Linked DNA regions of Homo sapiens. The protein of the gene in region 2 interacts with the protein of the main gene of each other region in a pairwise test. Each region holds a gene or a part of one and is shown on either strand. Other genes may lie near its edges. The genes, in order: FAM25C and ZFAND3.

What was found.
Region 1: the proteins of ZFAND3 (region 2) and FAM25C interact in a two-hybrid assay, tested with the Homo sapiens proteins (one large-scale study listed by BioGRID).

Annotation. Positions count from the first base shown.
Region 1 is NC_000010.11:47,996,851-48,001,453, reverse strand, and holds the start of FAM25C (protein FAM25C), read left to right. Parts: upstream 1-1,662; 5' UTR 1,663-1,688; coding exon 1,689-1,761; intron 1,762-3,714; coding exon 3,715-3,777; intron 3,778-4,603.
Region 2 is NC_000006.12:38,060,681-38,064,492, reverse strand, and holds part of ZFAND3 (AN1-type zinc finger protein 3), read right to left. Parts: intron 2,901-3,812; coding exon 2,718-2,900; intron 1-2,717.

The DNA.
Region 1 (4,603 bases), on a different chromosome or scaffold from region 2:
GCCTCTGCAGTGCCAGCCCAATGCCCTGGGCAAAGCATCCTGGACTCTGGCTGTTACAAAAGGAGGACAGGGTCATCTGGACCCGCCTGAGCTCCAGGCCCCCGACTTTCACAGCCCCTTCTGGGTCCAGAAGTTCATACGTATATAAATGAAAAATGTGCAAGAATCATATTATTGTATTCTTTTTCATAAAGAGGCCCCTCTAAATTGTTGAAGCCCCGATCCACCCCTGCCCAAAGGAGACAGCAATGGCATGTGTGGGGCCACAGTCTTGAGACCCAGAGGTCCTGCTGCCCACGATACCCACTGTCCACCCTAGGGGGACTGGCCGTAGCCCTGGAGCCCGCAAACACCATGCAGGAATGCAAGAAGGTCTCAGCTCCCGAGTCCCAGGCTGGGAGGGCCCACAGTCCAGTAAACTAATCAGGCCCCGACACATCCAGGAGAGCAGCTCCAGGAGCCTGCATTGGGGAGAGAGCCTCAGACCCCTGCCACAGGCCTGCACCCCAGAAGTAGGAGCATGGGAAGACCTCTCCTTGGCTCCTGGCCAGCAGAAGTCACATTCCCCAGCCCTCTGGCTCCAAGGCAGCCTCACGTCCCAGTCACTCCTTGGCACACCCTACCAGTTGGTCAGAGCTCACTGCCAAAGGGCACCTCAATGATGAGTGGAGGGAACAGGTGTTTACCAGGAGCTTGCATGCTTTGTCTCAGGGATGATTAGGGACACAGCCAAGAAGACACGCTATGCCCATTTTACAGATGAGGAAACGGAGGCTCAGGTTGGGCTGGTGACTAAGGGAAGCAGCATGTGGCAGGTGGCTTGAGGCATGTCTGTCCATCATGAGTAACTAGGGAGCAGCCCTGCCACTCCTCATGCGATGCACCAGGAGCCAGGGAAGCTGCTTCCTAGGGGATTCTAGCTAAGGCCAGAAGCATCTCCCTGAGTGGTGGTGGAGGCCTCTGTCTACTCCTCCAGGACTGCCAGGGGATAGGAGGGCACTGCTGACCTCACAGAGCCTCTTGGGTGAGTGAGCATCAGCTGAGTGACACCAGGTGACTACGCTTCTGCCCAGTGCTGTGCCCCCCTCTGACTCGGGCAAGGCACCACCCTGAACGCCCCACCCTGTCCCATGGAGGCCGCAAACTGCTCTGCAGAGCCAGGGTCTCCAGGAATGGGGAGGGCAGTCACCCTCATTCCACTTGTGTTCATGACCCAAAGGACTGCCCAGGTCTCCAGGCCCATAGAACCCCCAAACCTCTTACTAGGCCACACTGGGGACCTTGAGCAGCAGGCTTGGAATCCTAGGCCTTGTCTCCAGGTACATATCAGTACCCAGGCTTGGGAAGCTTTGGTCTCAGGGGGGCTGGCACTCAGGCCCTCTGCCTCAAGGAAGAAGCATGTCCAGATCTCTACTGTCCAGCCCTGCTCCCTGCCCCTATCCTTCACGGGGTCCCTAGGACAGGGTTACAGAAGCCTCATGCTGTCAGGGGATGCTGCCACCCTAGTTCCAGGGTGGCTCCGCCCAGCCCCTTCCTGCTGCCGCCCTCACTGACTCACCTGTCCAGCCTCCTACTGGGCTGGGGTGAGGGCTTATTGCCCCAGAGCCTAGACAGACACCAGAGGCAGCTATAAAAGCATGTTGGGCCAGTCCTCAGCATCCTAGTTCGCCACTGTCTGCTGCCACACGATGCTGGGAGGCCTGGGGAAGCTGGCTGCCGAGGGCCTGGCCCACCGCACCGAGAAGGCCACCGAGGGAGCCAGTGAGGACCCGGGGCTCCTTTCTACCTGGGCTGGGGGGATCTGGGGCAGACTGGGTCTGTGGGAGGCGGATCTACGTAGGCAGGCGAGGACCTGCGGGGAGGCCTTGGCCCCTCAGGAACCCTGGTCTCCTGCTCTACCAAGTCAGCACGGAGTTGAGGGGTGCAGACCTGGGGAGGTCTCCTGGGGGCAGGGCATGAGTCCTGGTGCTGGGTGAACACTGGCAGCTTGGACCCTTCCCTCTGGAAATCTGGGGAGCCTTTCTTGTCAAAACAGCCTATTCTGAATAACCTATGCAGGAAAAGGAAGATGGATTTTTATTTTTACCATAACTTTAAAGCTTCAAAGATTTCTTAACAAGTCACCAAGTCTGTTCAAAGTCAAAAAGGGCATTTTCAATTTCATCCAAGTCCCCTAAAGCATGTTTATTTTTATTTGTATTTGTATTTGAAATGGAGTCTTGCTCTGGCACCCAGGCTGGAGTGTAGTGGTGCGATCTCGGCTCACTGTAACCTTTGCCTCCTGGGTTCAAAGTGATTCTCATGCCTCAGCCTCCTGAGTAGCTGGGATTACAGGCACCCACCACCACGCCCGACTAATTTTTGTATTTTTAGCAGAGACGGGGTTTCGCCATTTTGGCCAGGCTGGTCTCAAACTCCTGCCCTCAAGTGATCCATTCCTCTTGGCCTCCCAAAGTGCTGGGATTACAGGCGTGAACCACTGCACCTGGTCCCGAAGTGTATGTTGTATTCAGAGGTCAGCAGGTATGTGTGGGGAGGCCCAGCCAGGCCCCACTCATGGGTCATCGTGTGAAAAAGTCTTGCCTGAGTTTGTGTCCTCTTTCTAAATGGCAGCAGATGCGTATTTTGTTTTTGACTCTGCAGCTGGTGTGGACCACCTGCTTTAACCTTTCACTAGCCTCTGAGTTTTCTATGATTCCTGTTGGGAGAAAAGCTGAGTGTTGGGAGAAAAGCTGAGGCAGGGCTTGCTAGACTTGCTGGCTCCTTGCTTCTAGCACTGCCATTCTCTCAAGTAGCCATATGTTTCTCATTCACTTGATACACTGTTGCCTTTCAACCTCCACATCCTCACCACCTGTTTCTTTGTTAGATCACCAATAAATAGCGTGGGCTCCCAGAACTCGGGGCCTTCGCAGCCTCCACACTCGCGATAGCGCCCTGCTCCCATTTTCTCTCTCGAACTGTCTCTTTCTCATTCCTTTGACTCCGCTGGACTTGCCGCCCCCGTGACCTGGTGTTGGGTCTCATCATCCCAACAGATTCCCATTCTAAAGATGAGGGAACCAAGAGGTGGAAGGTAGAGTTAGAATAAGAACCATTTCTTCTGACTCTGAAATCCTTCAGTTCTAGCACACTACCACCCACACTTTAAAAAACTCTGAAGTAGGCAGAGAATTCCGTTTTGTTGGAGGAATTGCTTTGAGAGACCTGGTCTTAGTGGATGAGGCTTTGGAAACCAACCTGAGGCAGGCGCTAGCACATCCTGAGAGGGGTGTGACCTGGCACACAGGCCCAGCCTGGGTTTCATGTCTCAGCTGGCAAGACTGCCTGCTCATTGCCATTCCAGGCCGGGCAGGGCCAAGGGGCTTCAGGGACCCATGCCCTCATGGGGCTCACTGAGCTCGTCTCCCGGTAGCCAAGGCCCTGGCGTCTCCAAATGAAGCCAGCTGTGGGGGAAGGTCCTTCTCATGAGCCAGTCTGTCCTGGCTGGGGGTGGCATCCCAGAGCCCCATCTAGGATGCCCAGGGATGTATAGGTCTGTTGTGAGGATAAGCCAGCCCTGAGCCCTCACCCTGGACTGGGAGGGCAGTGGGCCTGCTCTGAGCCCTCACCCTGGACTGGGAGGGCAGCGGCTCTGCTCTGAACCCTCACCCTGGACTCAGGGGCAGCCGGCCTGCTCTGAGCCCTCACCCTGGACTTGTCTCCTCTGTTCAGTTCATGCCGTGGAGGAAGTGGTGAAGGAGGTGGTGGGACATGCCAAGGAGACTGGAGAGAAAGGTACAGCCGGCTGAGGTCGGGCAGGGAAGGAGGGAGGGAGGAAGGGAAGCTAGGTGCTGGGCCAACCTGTTCTTTGACTAACCAGGTCAAACTCTGCCCCTAATGTTGCAGCCTTTCAGAGCCTCTTGGCTGGGGCAGTTATCTATGCTCATCAGAGGCCACAGACCGTACTGCGTTAGGACACTGTCTAGATGGTTCTCTCTGTGGAATAAGAAGACAAAGTCACACAAGACTATGTGACAGCACACTGGGACAAAACATTTAACATGGCAGGGCACGGTGGCTCATGCCTGTAATCCCAGCACTTTGGGAGGCTGAGGAGGGCGGATCACGAGGTCAGGAGATCGAGACCATCCTGGCTAACACGGTGAAACCCCGTCTCTACTAAAAATACATAAAAATTAGCCGGGCATGGTGGTGGGTGCCTATAGTCCCAGCTACTTGGGAGGCTGAGGCAGGAGAATGGTGTGTACCTGGGAGGCAGAGCTTGCAGTGAGCCTAGATCATGCCACTGCACTCCAGCCTGGGCTACAGAGCGAAACTCGGTCTCAAAAAAATTGCTGGGGGCGGTGGCTCACGCCTGTAATCCCAGCACTTTGGGAGGCTGAGGTGGGCGGATCATGAGGTCAGGAGATCCAGACCACGGTGAAACCCCATCTCTACTAAAAATACAAAAAATTAGCTGGGCACGGTGGCGGGCACCTGTAGTCCTAGCTACTCGGGAGGCTGAGGCAGGAGAATGGCGTGAACCTGGAAGGTGGAGCTTGCAGTGAGCCGAGATCGCGCCACTGCACTCCAGCCTGGGCGACACTGTGATACTCTGTCT
Region 2 (3,812 bases):
AGCCAAATGCCTAAATTTGAATCCTGGTTCTGGTATCTACTCGTTTGTGACCACAGGCAAATTACTTAATCTTTTTGTGTCTAATTCCTCATCTATGGAATGAGTATAATGACACTATCTACCTCATTGGGTTATCACGAAAAACAATGAGAAAATATGCATGTAGAATAATGTCTCATATACAAAGTGCTCAATAAATGGTAGCTACTGTTATCTCAGCCTCACATGCATTTTGGTGGCTTGAATTGATTTGTGGTGGCCCGATCCTGGTATGCACGAATCCAATCCAGTTTCCATCAGATGAGATCCTGACCAACTTTTTCCTTAGACCAGGAGTTCTTAACCCAAGGGCCATAATAAGCTGTAGAGAAATTTTATGCAAAATTGGGTATAAATGGATGGTGTATATTTTTCTAGGACAAGAGGCCACAGCTGTCATCAACTCCTCAGTAAGTACATGATCTTGAAAAGATTTTTTAAAACAAAACAAAATCTACTGCCTTAGCATGACCACTACCATTTTCACCGTTTTTTTTTTTCTCCTCTTATATGATTTCTACACCTTGGCCTCTATTCAATAAGTTATAATATTTAAAAAATTCTTTCTTTGCAATGTTATTCCTGTTTAATCCTTTCCATTTTCAATACAACCAAGGTTACTTCTCCAAAGAACTGTAATAATATCACCTCCTCTGCTCAAAAACATGGCTACTGTCTCAAGTCCAAATAGCTTAGCTGGACATTTAGCCTCTATGTCTTGGCCACAACTTACCCTTCCAGCCTTGTCTTTCATTCTCTTCCACAAATGGCCCTAAGACAGTCATTTGCCATTGAGAAACTCCATGCAGCTTTCCTTCCACAGCTCATTCTACTCTGTCTAGTATGTCTCTTCACCACCTTCTATCCATCTTTACCACCACTTCCTCAGTAGGTCAATGCCCTTCAACAGTTGCTGTCTTTAATACATAAGGACCAACATGGGTGTATGCAAACATGTATCAGGGTTTGTCAAGCTCATCATTACTGGTATCGTGAGCTGAATGATTTTTTGTTGCAGAGGACTGTCCTATGTGATGCAGGACATTTAGCAGCATTCCTGGTCTCCAGACATTATCAAATGTTCTGGGGCTGTGGGGTGGGAGATCACTCTTGGTTGATAACCACTGATAAACTACAACAAATATATTTAATTTCCCCTTCAAATTCTTTGAGGACAAAGACTATGACCTTGCTTATTTTATATTCTCGATATTACCAAATATAGCAGTTTATGACAGATTTAGATAAATATTTGTTTTCTGCTAACCTTTCCAAAGTTAGTATACAGAACACAGAACATTCTAACCTACTGTGTTTCTAGATATTCATGAAACTTGAAATACTAAATTTCAACTTAGCTTTCAAAGAAAAAAAAGGCCAGGTCTCACAAGGCTGCAGTGTAATGGTTAAGACCACAGTCCACTGTAACCCTGAACTCCTGGGCTCAAGAGATCCTCCTGCCTCAGCTTCCCAAGTAGCTGGGACCATAAACACACACCACCACGCCTGGCTAATTTTTTTTTTTTTTTGGTAGAGACAAGAGTCTCACCATGTTGTCTAGGCTGGTCTCAAATTCCTGGCCTCAAGCAATCCTCCTGGCTTGGCCAAGTAGAGCTTTTAAAAGGCAAAAACTACTATGTCATAATATCCCTATAATTTTCAACAAATACTATCAACTATATTTGTGCCCTAAAAGAGATGTATATCTCACATACCGCCAGGGATGGGGGATGGAGGGAAAGAGATGTATATTATGACATTATAAAAATTAAGCAGACAATGGGCTGGGCATGGTGGCTCATGCCTGTAATCCCAGTACTTTGGGAGACCAAGGTGGTTAGATCATTTGAGGTCAGGAGTTCGAGACCAGCTTGGCCAACATGGTGAGATCCTGTTTCTACTAATTAGCCAGGCATGGTGGCAGGCACCTGTAATGCCAGCTACTCAGGAGGCTGAGGCAGGAGAATCACTTGAACCCAGGAGGTAGAGGTTGCAGTCAGCTGAGATGGTACAACCGCACTCCAGCCTGGGCAACAGAGTGAGTATCTAAAAAAAAAAAAAAGAAATTAAGTAGACAGTGAACTTCTAACCTACATAATAGCATTCCAACACTGAAGACTTACAGAAGAGTAATACCATCTCCTCCTTCCTTTAAACATCCTATGTTCTATGAAGTATAGTGCTATCTCAGTTAAATGCTTAGAAACAGTCAAGGCCCAGTTAGTGACAGAGGTAAAGCTTCAATCTAAGGCTCCTAAATTAGGGTTTTAGGGTTAGAATCCCTTACTGGTCCCTTGCTGCATATTAGAAATCCTCTGCGGAGTTAAAAATAACAGATCCCTGGGCCTCCCTCCAGATCAATTAAATGAGAACGAGGGAATGGTGCTAAAGATTAAAATTGTTTTAAAAACCCCCAGTGGATTCTAATGTGCAGACATAGGTGAGAGCCACTGCTCTCTAGACTGGTTCAAACTTCATGTACTTTGACGGTATAAAAGGCTATTTCTTCAGGAATGGCTGAAACTTATTCTCTAACTTGCTGAGCTTGGGCCTTGTATGTGGACACTTATCTTGAATTAAAAGAAGTGCTGTTTTTTCTGGGGTCAGGCATTACCAAGATGCTCATCTAAAGTTCTTAAGCTGCTCTCTCTACCACCCCTCAGAAGCCAGACACTTACACTCCTCTTTACTCGGTGAAGTTACATTCAGTTCTGTCGGAAGCGGCTGCTGGCTGGGACTAAGAGTTGGCGTGGTTATCGAGGTATTGTTGTTGTCACTGGTGGTCTCTTCGGAAAACAAATCTGATTGGCTGTTACTTGTACTTGGAGCGGAATCATCGTCTGGCTGTTTCTTTTGAAAATCTGAAGAAAAATAGAAAACGAGCTTAATTAAGGAGTTCACAGTCTCTGAGGATTAGAAAACAATGGAAGTTGGTACAAAAATTAAATGCAACAACACCAATAATAAAGACTGATCTGGGTGACTAAAAAACCATGGGAGTAAAACACTGGTCAAAAACGTTTAAGATTAGTGGAAGGTACTAGAGTTAAAAGTTTTCCAAGGTCCCTTATTATTCAGAAGAATGCAAACATACTGATTTTAACATTCTGTGCAAAGCCAAAGACGCATGTTAAAAATTTAAGGGTAATCAGAAGGAAAAAGGGAATAAAGAATAGTTTTTCAAACTTTTCAGAAGGAAAGGTCATAAGGAAAAAGGCAGCAGAGAAAACAGCAGAGTAAACAGAAAACACATAATAAGATGGTAGAAATAAGTACAAATATGTCAGTAATGGTAATAAATGTAAACAGACTGAACTTATCAGCTAAAAGGCAGAATATTTGGACTAAATGAAGTCCAGTTGTATTCAATTTACAAGGGACATACTAAAAACATAAATATGAGAGGATAAACAAAATGTTAAAGTATAGTTAATCCTTGAACATCATGGGTTTGAACCGTGTGGGTCCACTTGCACGTGGATTTTTTTCAACCAAATGCAGATCAAAAATACAATATTCACGGGATGCAAAAATCATATATGGAAGGCCTACTTTCCATATACGATGGTTCTGCAGTGCAGACTGATGAACCTGAGTATGCACAGATTTTGGTATATGCAGGGGAGTCCTGTAGCCAATCTCCCAAGTATAACACAATCGTATATAAAAAAAAATGTACCTGGCAAATAAATATAAATGAACAGGCAGGGCACAGTAGCTCACGCCTATAATCTTAGCATTTTTGAAGACTGAGGCGGGAGGACTGCTTGAGG